Linked DNA regions of Homo sapiens. The protein of the gene in region 2 purifies or fractionates together with the protein of the main gene of each other region. This does not show direct contact. Each region holds a gene or a part of one and is shown on either strand. Other genes may lie near its edges.

Region 1 (4,737 bases), on a different chromosome or scaffold from region 2:
CTTTCCTAGAGTTCTCACTAACTCCTCCCCCTGCTCCCCTCCATACACATGGCCTCTGCCCCATCCCCATTACCCCATCCAAGGTCAGGCTCACCGGAAGAATGTATGATGCTCGATGCAGACCTTCCACAGTCTCTTGGCTGACCGGTGGTTTGGGAGCTTAAAGCCAATTGTGCTCTCAAATTGCTCATACTGGAAAACCAAAAGGGCAGGTTAGAGGCAGGGCCTGAGCTCACTCTCGCCACTAGCCCATTCTTTGTGTTTTTTATTTTATTTGTTTAATGTTTTTTTGAGACACAGGGTCTCGATCATTTGCCCAGGGTGGAGTACAGTGGCGCAATCATAGCTCACTGTAACCTTGAATTCCTGGGCTCAAGAGATCCTCCTGCCTCAGCCTCCCAAGTAGCCAGGACTACAGTCAGACGACACCACACCAGCTAATTTTTTGTAGAGAATGAGTCTCACTATGTTGCCTAGGCTGGTCTCCAACTCCTGGGCTCAAGCAGTCCTCCCACCTCAGCCTCCCAAAATGCTGGGATTACAGACGTGAGTCATTCTTTCTGAACTCTTCTCAGGCATCTGCGACTTTGGCCTGTTCATTCACTGAATCAATAAGGGTGATTGAGCCCTTACTCTGTGACGGGTCCAGTGCTAAACACTAGAGATACATGGAGACCAAGGCAGAAGATTCTAGTAGGGGAAGGGGACCTCCAATAACAAATAAGCAAACAAGATAATTGCAGACACTGATCAGGGCTACAAGGGGAATGAAGGGAGATGTGTGGTGCAGCAGAACTGGGAAGGCATAGGGGCTCCTGTCATCTAAGGAAGAGCAGGGGATCCCCTCTAGACCTAGATCTAGGTGATCTTGAGCTGACATTTGAAGAATGGGAAGGAACCAGCTATGTGAGAAGCGAGAGGGGGAGATACTTTCAGGTAAAGGAAACATCAAATGCGAAGCACTCAGGCAGGAAAGAGCTCGACTTATTCAAAGATCTCAAGGCCGAAGAGGCTAAAGCACCTTGGGCATGGGGCAGTGTGGCAAGGGATAGGTGGGAGAGGTAGGTGGCCATGGAAGGAGTTTGAAGTTTAGCTCAAGAGCTAAAGAGAGTTCCTGAAAGGTGTAAGCAAGGGTGTGGATGGGAAGGGGGAGTGGGCTTGCCATGATCTGATTTAAGGGACTTTTTAAGATCTCTCCAGCAGCTATGAGGAAAATGACCTGGAGAGCACCAGAGGCGAGGGAGAAGGCCCTCATAGGCACAGGCAAAAGATGGGGGATGCTGGAGGCGGGTGTGATGGAGAGGAAGAGAAGCAAATGGGTTCATGTTTATTCTACAGGTACAACCAAATGGGCTTTTTGATGGGTGAGATGTAGGTAATTGAAGGAAAAGAGGTGTAGACATATACATGTTTGCATTTGTGTGTGTTGTATGTATAGTCGAGTCTGTGTATCTTAAAATGTGTACAAACTTCCATACTTACAACACCTAAATACATGAACTTTACACAGACATGTATTCATTTATCTGTGTGACCTGAATGTATGTAGTTATATTTCTTCTTTTTTTTTTCTCCCTTTTTTTTTTTTTTGAGACAGAGTCTTGCTCTGTTGCCCAGGCTGGAGTGCAGTGCCAGCTAATTTTGTATTTTTAGTAGAGACGGGGTTTCACCATGTTGGCCAGGCTGGTCTCACACTCCTGACCTCATGTGATCCACCTTCCTCGGCCTTCTAAAGTGCTGGAATTACAGGCATGAGCCACTGCACCTGGCCATATGTGGTTATACTTTTATTTAGACTCCTCTCTCTCTCTCTCTCTCTCTCTCTCTGTGTGTGTGTGTGTGTGTGTGTGTGTGTGTGTGTGTGTGTGTGTGTGTGTGTGTGTGTGTTGGCAGTCCAGGCCCAGCTGCCAGGGTCCACTCCATTCTAGTTGATTCCGGTGAGGAGGAGTGTTTCCCAAGGCAGACTCACCTCCCCAGGCCGGATCTTGATATAGAAGTTACTCCTCTTGTAGGAGATCTTGAGGATCTTGGGCCAGGCAAAGCGGTTGATTCTCAGCCGGTCCCGGTAGATGAGCAGGCCATTGGCACAAACGCCTAACATGATGTCGATGCCCTCAGAGTCCTGCATGAGAAGAGACCATGGAATGGGAGGCCCGGGGTCCATGCCTGGGGACAGCCTACCACCCACCCCGAAAACACTGCCCTGTGCGCTGCTTGTAACGAGCTCTCAGGAACAGGGTTAGAGCCTCCATGCTGGAGTCCCACTGACCAATCCCTCCCATAGTCATTCAGTCATTCACTCATCCATTTAGGTATTTTTTTCACCCACTCACTTGTTTGATCATTTGCTCTGTCAATCACTCAATCGTTCATTCATCCAGCAAATATTTAGTGGCACACACTTGGTGCCAGGCTATGTGCCAGGTGCTAGGGATATAGAAATAAACTAAGGCCTACGTCTTTCCCTCACAATGCTCCCAATCTAGCAGTGGCTCAAACAGGTTCATAAATAAAATACATGGAGAAAATAATACAGATCATGAGAAAATAAAAGGTTATGGAACTTCGAGAAATGAGAATGAGAACAGAAAAGGTTTCAAGTTGGAGGTAACACAGGGTCTGGCACACCACGCCCTAGGGAAAGGCCTGATAGTTCTTTGGGGGCACCACCCAGACACTAGGGGAACCCAGGAAGCTGGTGGTACCTTGGCATGGTGCAGGTCTACTCCGTACATGGAAAGCTTCTTGGCATTCTCTAAGAAGTGGATTTCTGCTTCTCCCGGGGTCATCCCCCTGAGGGAAAGAAAGTGATCACAGGTGACCAAGGGAAAGGCCCAGGTTTAGTCCTGCTGTCCAAAGGTGCCCACCATCAGAACCCATGATTCTAGAAAGTCAAATATGCTGAGCCTCACCCTAATCTTTTCCCTCTGCCCTCAGAGCAGGAGGGTGTACCCCAACTCCCACTTCAGCCCACCCAACCCCCAACTTCTGCCAAAGCTCAAGTCCAGTCTTGTTAGTCCAGGGATCATACAAAGGCTGAGCTGGGAGTCAGGATTTTTGCCTCATTCTGCCACTGAGTTGACTGTGAGCTATAAATTCTACTTTTCCATGACTGTAAAACCATTGTTACGGACATTGTTCATTATCATCACCCAGGGGCTCCTAAATTATTACCCACACAGGATATTTCTTGCAGAATTTAGTATCAGAAGCCACTTAATCTCTCCTAAGGAACAGGTGCACATTCTCCTTTCCAAAAAGAAGAGTTATGTAATTAATCAAGTTCCTTCTTTGCTTTGGCTGCCAGGAAACTTGGACTACATTTTATACTTAGTCACAGCAAACATTTATTGAGTACTATGTGCTGGTTACTGTTCTAAGCACTTTACACATATTAACTCACTGAATCCTCATAACAACTCTGTAAGATAGGTATTATTATTATTGTCATTTTACAGATGAAAAAACCGGCACAGAGACATTGAGTAACTTGTCCAAGGTCACACTGCTATGAAGAAGAGTCAGAATTTGAATCTAGACAATGTGACTTCAGAGTTTATGCTCCTAATCACTTCATTACAGGTCTTGTGTATCCTCCAGGCCTCAGTTTCCTGTGACCTGTCTACCTCTGGGCTGCTGTGTGGGATACTTGGACACGAGATGTCAGTGTGCTTTAGGTCCAAAGAGCTTTAGGGACAGCCCTTAGTATTTCTCCAGCCCATATTGATCTGAACATCTTTCTCTGAATTATTATGACTCTTGCAAATCCTAAGATGTCTTGCTATCTAGGACAGGGATGACAAATAGATGGCAGGCAGGCCACTACTCCCTATTCCTATGCCCAGGTGGATATTGCTAACCTGGGCATTGTAGGGAATCAGTGTCCTACTCAACACAACACCACAGCAGTCGCTATTAACCAAGTGGAGTTAGTGTGCGACTCTCAGAGACAGCATTTGCCACCCTTGACCTAGCATTCATCACACCCCAGCAGGCTCTTCCCCACGTACACGATCCCTCCACATCTGACTCTAGCCCTCCTCTCCAGATAACGCCCACAGAACCAAGGCCTCCTAATTCCCTCCATCCTCAATAGTAATGAGACAATATCACCATACTCCTTTCCCTGGGTGCCGCACTTTACAGTTTATAATGCACCTTCACATTATTAATTATATTGAGTCCCCATAACAATCCTGGACTTACAGCCCCAAATACTTCCAGCTTAAAAGGACCCTACAAATCATTTAGTTCCAAGGGCTCCTCTCCAGGGGAACCTGTACAGAAGCAATGGCAAAGGGGAGTATCTGGGTTGTTACAAGGACTGAGAAGGTGTTATGGGCATTTACTGGGTCCCAGGGATGCTGAACATTCTGCACAATGAATTCTCCTGCCCCAAATGCCAATAGTTGAGAGACACTGATAATCTAACTTTGTGCATATACAGGTGAAAAATGGGGCTTAGATAGGTTAAATAACCAGCCTACAATCACACTAGTTAATTATCGTCCAACTGCTGGAACGAGGTACTTTCCCCTGCATGATCAACTGTTCAACCCCTCGATCCACAGACAGCAACACTAACAGCCAACATGCAGTGTGCCTTTAATATGTGCTATTTAGGCTTCCCAACAATCCTACAGGGTGGGTTTAACAGCATCCACCTTGAACAGATGAGGAAACCAAAGCATAGGAAGTGAAATGACCTTCCTGAGATCCTCTAGTTAGAAAGTGGCA
Region 2 (5,600 bases):
CTAGCTACTTGGAAGGCTGAGGTGAGAGGATTGCTTGAGTCCAGGAGTTCAAGGCTACGCTGAGCTATGATTGTGCAACTGCACTCCAGCCTGGGCAACAGAGTGAGACCCTGATCCCCCAACTGCCTAAAAAGACAAAAAAAAAAAAAAAGAGTAACCTTTAGCAGTGTCTTTCTGTTGCTTCTTATTTTTGTTATTTAACATCTAGAATAAAAACACAGATTTTGCATAGATCTTTTGGGAAAAATAAAAGTAATTTATGGAATTGAAGCAAAACTAATACCTGCCAAAATCTAGTTATTTTGCTCTTCTTGAGACTTATTTCTAAAGCAGAAAATGGCCGTGCAAGACAGACAAATTTCCTGAGTTGCATACTGGCCAGTGCTGTGGCTATCATACCTGCTGAATAAAAAAGTTCCTAAACCACTCAAGCCATCTAACTGAGGAAGATTTGAAGACTTAAAATGTTGTTATACTTCCAGTGCTCACGTCAAAAACAATCAAAATTATTACATCCTCAGGTATATGTTTAAATGTTCAAAAGAGGGAGATTTTATTTCTCTATTACTATTTTAATGTAGCTTTGTTTTATAATCTATCACCAGGGAGTCATCTGTACCACAATGAATGAATACAGATTGTTTATCAAGATCTAGCCAGCTCTCTGGAATGAAGTGTTTATAAACTTGTTGTCCCATTTTCTCCTTACTGTATCTTCAGTAACACATATATAAAATCAGAATCCTCAATATACTTAATGAACGTAATCTTAGGAACATCACTCTAATACTTTCCTATAGGCTAAAATATCTATTTCAGTAAAGTTTTCACACAACCAAGATTTTCACATGGAGTTTCATGTTGGGGATTCTACTTACAAATTTACTTCTCTGAGGTAAACGAGGGCCATCCCCTCCTTCAGCATCTTCTGTGGCCTTTTTTTCTTTTTTGGACAATTGTGAACGTTGTTGTTCCATTCTTTCTTTCTCCAATTTCTTCTGCTTTTCACGTTCCATTTTTTCAAGACCTTCGCGAATCCAAGCGGGAAGAGTCCTGCGTTTTACTGCGTCTGTTTCACGTGGGAAAAATATACGCAAGTCAGTTAAGTAAAATATTTCTACAAACTTGTGAGTAAATTTAAAAAATATCCCATTAAATATCATGCCTTTCTTCAATGCCATCACTTTTAGTAACAGCAGGGACCACTGCTCTAGTGCTTACAATCTGCCAGGACACAATGAAAGCATGTTAAACCATCATCTAATTTAATCCTTACAAAAGCCCTCAGAGATCACTACTATTACTCCACTTTTTTCCACAGGTGAGGAAACTGAGACTCGAAAAAATTAAGTGATTTGCTAGTAAGTTAAAAAAGGAGTAAAGTTAGAATCTTCCTAAAATGTAAAAAGTAAAGATTTATTAACAAATGCTCCTGTCCATTAAATACTGAACAATTTAGAACTTTCCAGATATAAAGTGGCATAAATATGTATTTGTCACTTGAAATAGGCTGGCTCTATAATGTTATTTAAAAAATTGAAATTTTCTGCCAAAATACTTAAGGGAAGTGAAATAACCAGAGGAAAATTAATCTGACAGCAGTGCATCAGATGAACTAAGAGTGGACAGAGATTGAACAATTAGATTTAAAAGGAGAAGGGCTCATATATCTGTATAATGTACTGAAATGCCTACACTGAAGAAAATACCAACATGCTATGGCTAGCATAAATTTTCACTTCATCACAAAATCTGGAATTTAATGTAAAGGTTTAAATAAAATTATTTAAACCTTTTAATTTCAGACCAGTATCATTTTTGTAATTTTAAGCTTTATGACCATAAAAAATAAAGTGTCAATTCCTAACACATCAGAGATACTCAAACAATTTTAAGAAAACAAGACATCCTTTTTATATGATAAAAAAGTCATGCCAATTGTGGTCCACTAAACTAAGTTAAATAGCTACCAATTTGTGGAGGCTCCTGCTTCACAGGAAGTGCAATAGGTGAACGCTGACGATCCCTGAATGATGATGGCCTTTCTCTTCGATTCTGGGGAGGTGCTGGAGGTCCTGGAGGTCCTGGTTGCCAATAAGGAGGATGAAATCCACCTTGCGGTGGACCAAAAGCAGCCCCATGCTGAAAGAGTATTGCAGTTTATTTTTTCTTCAAATTAATACAATATACTCTCTGGGACACACGTGTGTTATGAACTGGGACAGTAGAAATCCATGTGTGCAGCACATCCAAGAATTCCATGGCTCTAATATCCACCGATACTTCTATGGTCCCAAGAACCTAGGCTTACTTGTCTTAAGATTTTCCGGCTATGTAAATGCAAAGAGGCTTCTAAAAGCCAGCTGATAAGCTACTTTCAAGAAGTATATGAAATTTTTCATTCTGAATCCATTTACAAGCTAATCCTACCAACACTAAGACATCAAATAGATACTAATTTCTCTTTAACTAGACATTTTTGTCAATTTCAACATCCTACTTACAGTGAACAAAAAGTGAACTAAACAACTTAAGCTGTTTCTATAATCTTGCAGATATATTCATTTATAAGCAAAGATAGAAGTTAATGAATCATTAAATATTTTCTGCAATTTTGCTATTTTCAGAGGCTTTTCTAGGCCAGCTGCCAATACAGCTCTTTGTCTTGTTTACATGGGATCTACCATGCAAAAGTAGGGTAAGCAGATGCTCCCTGCCATTATATTTCTTCAAACAACATAAAAACTGTTGTATCTGTATACCAAGTATACAAGTATCTGAATATTTATTAATGAGAGGATTACCATCTCAAGGTGAATACTAGATGTCCATTATCAAATCTACCCTAGAATTCATGAAATAATTCTTTCAAAATTTTAAATTATGATAGCAGTTTATAAGTTAATAATTGCAATCAGTTATTTCAAAATGACACCTAGCACTATAATTTAAGGGTAGACCCTGGCAGAGGGAATGAAGTAAATAAAGCCCAACATACAACACTATTCCCCACAGAGTTCTATGTCCCTAGGAATGAATTGGATGCTACAGAGGAAATTATATACAATTCCATTAACATGTCATGTCAGAATGGAAAAAAAATGACACTAGAAAAACAGTCATAATTCTACATAGCACAAGGAATTACACTTAGGAAAATGATCTATATTTTTTATTCATGTCTTAACCATGAGCTATATTCAATTACTGTGCATTCTCTAGTCTTTAACATTTAAATATACCATTTTGAAATATAAATTAGAAAATAAAACATCATATAGCTATTGCACTTATACATTTTTAATTTTTTCAAAAGTTTTCCGTAATGATCTTTTATACCATTTTCCTAATGAAATAAAAAAATCAGAAAACAAATTCTAATTATTTTAATACTCAAAAATTGATAACTGAGACAGAATGTGCTTATTTATACAAGTCTGAAAAGTGAAACACGTATCTTAGGTATTCTTGATGAGACACTTCCAAAGAATGGATTACGTGCACATCTACAATATTAAAGCAACAAAATATCTTTCACCTGATAGTCAAACTGGTTCACTGGCCCCACTGCAAAATTATCGGGTGGTCCACCAAAGTTGTGATTGTTCTGGTTAAATATATGCCTGTTGTCAGGGGCAAATTCCCCACTGTCCTGACTGTTGCTGTCTTCAGAAGGAGGAACAATGTCCATTGGGCCTGGTGTTGGTGGCATCCATGGCTGATCTGGAGGGGGGTGTGGGGGTTGCTGATGCATTCCCCATTCTATTTAAGATTTAGGCATAAAAACATTCAACAGGCGGTTATAACAAAATCAACACAGAATTTTAAGATCTCAAGAAAGATTTTTCAGTAAACATACAGATTTAAAAAACAACTTATGACTTCTTGGTCAAATTCCTTTTGTTTATCTTAAAAATAAGCAATGAACTAAACTGTCATATATAATTCAAAATGAGCTAACTCCACTCTAATTCATATCCTAACCAAATGCCCAAAGTTATTTTTAACAAATGTAACAAAATCCAAAGCACTATTTTTGTTGAATTTTTATATTTGTTTAGTAACAACACCACAAAAATAATACCTTGAGGTTTTATATAATTTCTTTCTTACACGAACACATTTATCCTCACAACATCCCTGTGAGGTAGGGAGAAATTAGGTATTATTTTTGCCAATTTCGGGAGGGAAAATCGAGGCACACAGAGGTAAATCACTTGCCCAGGGTCACAAAGTAGAGTAAAACTAAGGGGTAGGGATGCCCGCGGGAGTCATTTAAGAACTTAAACTTAGGAACTAAAACATTTTCAAATGTGGGGAAATTTCACTTTCAAGAAAGCTAGAAATGAACCACCTCACAGTATCAAAGACTAGAATATTTATGTTTTTAAAAGTAATCTGAATTCTCGTTTTTTTTGTTTGTTTGTTTTAAATGAGGGACTCATTCTGTCACCCAGGCTGGAGTGCAGTGGCGTGATCACAGCTCATTGCAGTCTCAATCCCCTAGGCTCAAGCAATCCTCCCACCTCAGCCTCCCAAGTAGCTGGGACTACAGGCATGCGCCTCTATGCCTGACTAAGTTTTAAGGTTTTTTTTTTTTTTTTTTTTGTAGAGACAGGGCCTTGCTATGTTGCCCAGGCTGGTCTCGACTGAGGTCTCCATTCTTATAAGGAGAAACAAAAAGTATTAATAGGGAAAGGAGGTTATGACTTCACCATCAGCATACCCAAATGAGAGGCTGATTCCTCCATAGTTTCAAGTGACTATTAAAAAGGAATAACACAAGCCATGGAAGACTGAATTAGCATCAAGAAATCTACATCATACTGTGAAATAAAACAAACAAAAAAGTAAAACACACAAAAACTTATGAAAGATCTTCACTATCTGAAAAAAAAAAAGGGAAGAAAAAGGTAGGCGGATGGTAGGGGCAGAGTATATTTGACAGACTAATTTGTCACACAGTGACACAATTTTTCTTTAATTAGAGGCTAGACATGTTTTACTCTGCCAGTGCTGCTTCTGAAAAGGCCAGAGGTTGCAATAGAGAGACAAAGAATGCTCTCTTCCCTAGATGCCAAGTGAGGTTTCCAGAGTGTTCCCAGCCCCTGTCAGCCTAGGAATGAAGAACCAAGAAAAGAATCAAACTGAGTGCCACAAAGCTAGCAGAATGAGTACAGAATAATTTTAACCACAAAATGTCAAAGTCAAATCAAATTGAAAACTGCCTATTCTTTAAGAAGCATTAATTTCCAGAAGTCATACAACTAAGCAAATTAAAAAATTTAATAATAATCTTCATTCTGTTTTTTAAAAGTCTTAAAATTGTGAAAACATAAACAACAAACCTGGTTGCCACATTCTGTTGAAGTTTGAATCCCCTTGGAAATTCCCATGATTGTTTGGACCAGATTCCATTGTAGACATATCTTGTCCATTTGGCATCATTCCTGGTGGTTGTTCTACCATGCTTTGCTGTCCTGAAGCTTCTCTTTGGGCAATCCAAGCTTGGGCCAATGCAGCCCAATCAATCTGGCCTAACGTAAATTAACACTGACTTCAGCATTCAGAATGTAGGAGTTAAAAGAATAGTGCCTCTA

Evidence for each region. The genes of interacting proteins can lie anywhere in the genome.
Region 1: the proteins of PNISR (region 2) and EPB41L1 purify together in Homo sapiens (co-immunoprecipitation; one large-scale study listed by IntAct). This does not show direct contact.

The regions. Positions count from the first base shown.
Region 1 is NC_000020.11:36,185,732-36,190,468, reverse strand, and holds part of EPB41L1 (band 4.1-like protein 1), read right to left. Parts: intron 2,794-4,737; coding exon 2,706-2,793; intron 2,123-2,705; coding exon 1,970-2,122; intron 193-1,969; coding exon 95-192; intron 1-94. UniProt on the Homo sapiens protein: May function to confer stability and plasticity to neuronal membrane via multiple interactions, including the spectrin-actin-based cytoskeleton, integral membrane channels and membrane-associated guanylate kinases.
Region 2 is NC_000006.12:99,407,203-99,412,802, forward strand, and holds part of PNISR (arginine/serine-rich protein PNISR), read right to left. Parts: intron 5,538-5,600; coding exon 5,349-5,537; intron 5,117-5,348; coding exon of another isoform or gene 5,112-5,116; exon of another isoform or gene 3,763-5,111; coding exon 3,539-3,762; coding exon of another isoform or gene 3,515-3,538; exon of another isoform or gene 2,144-3,514; intron 2,143-2,143; coding exon 1,971-2,142; intron 1,070-1,970; coding exon 879-1,069; intron 1-878.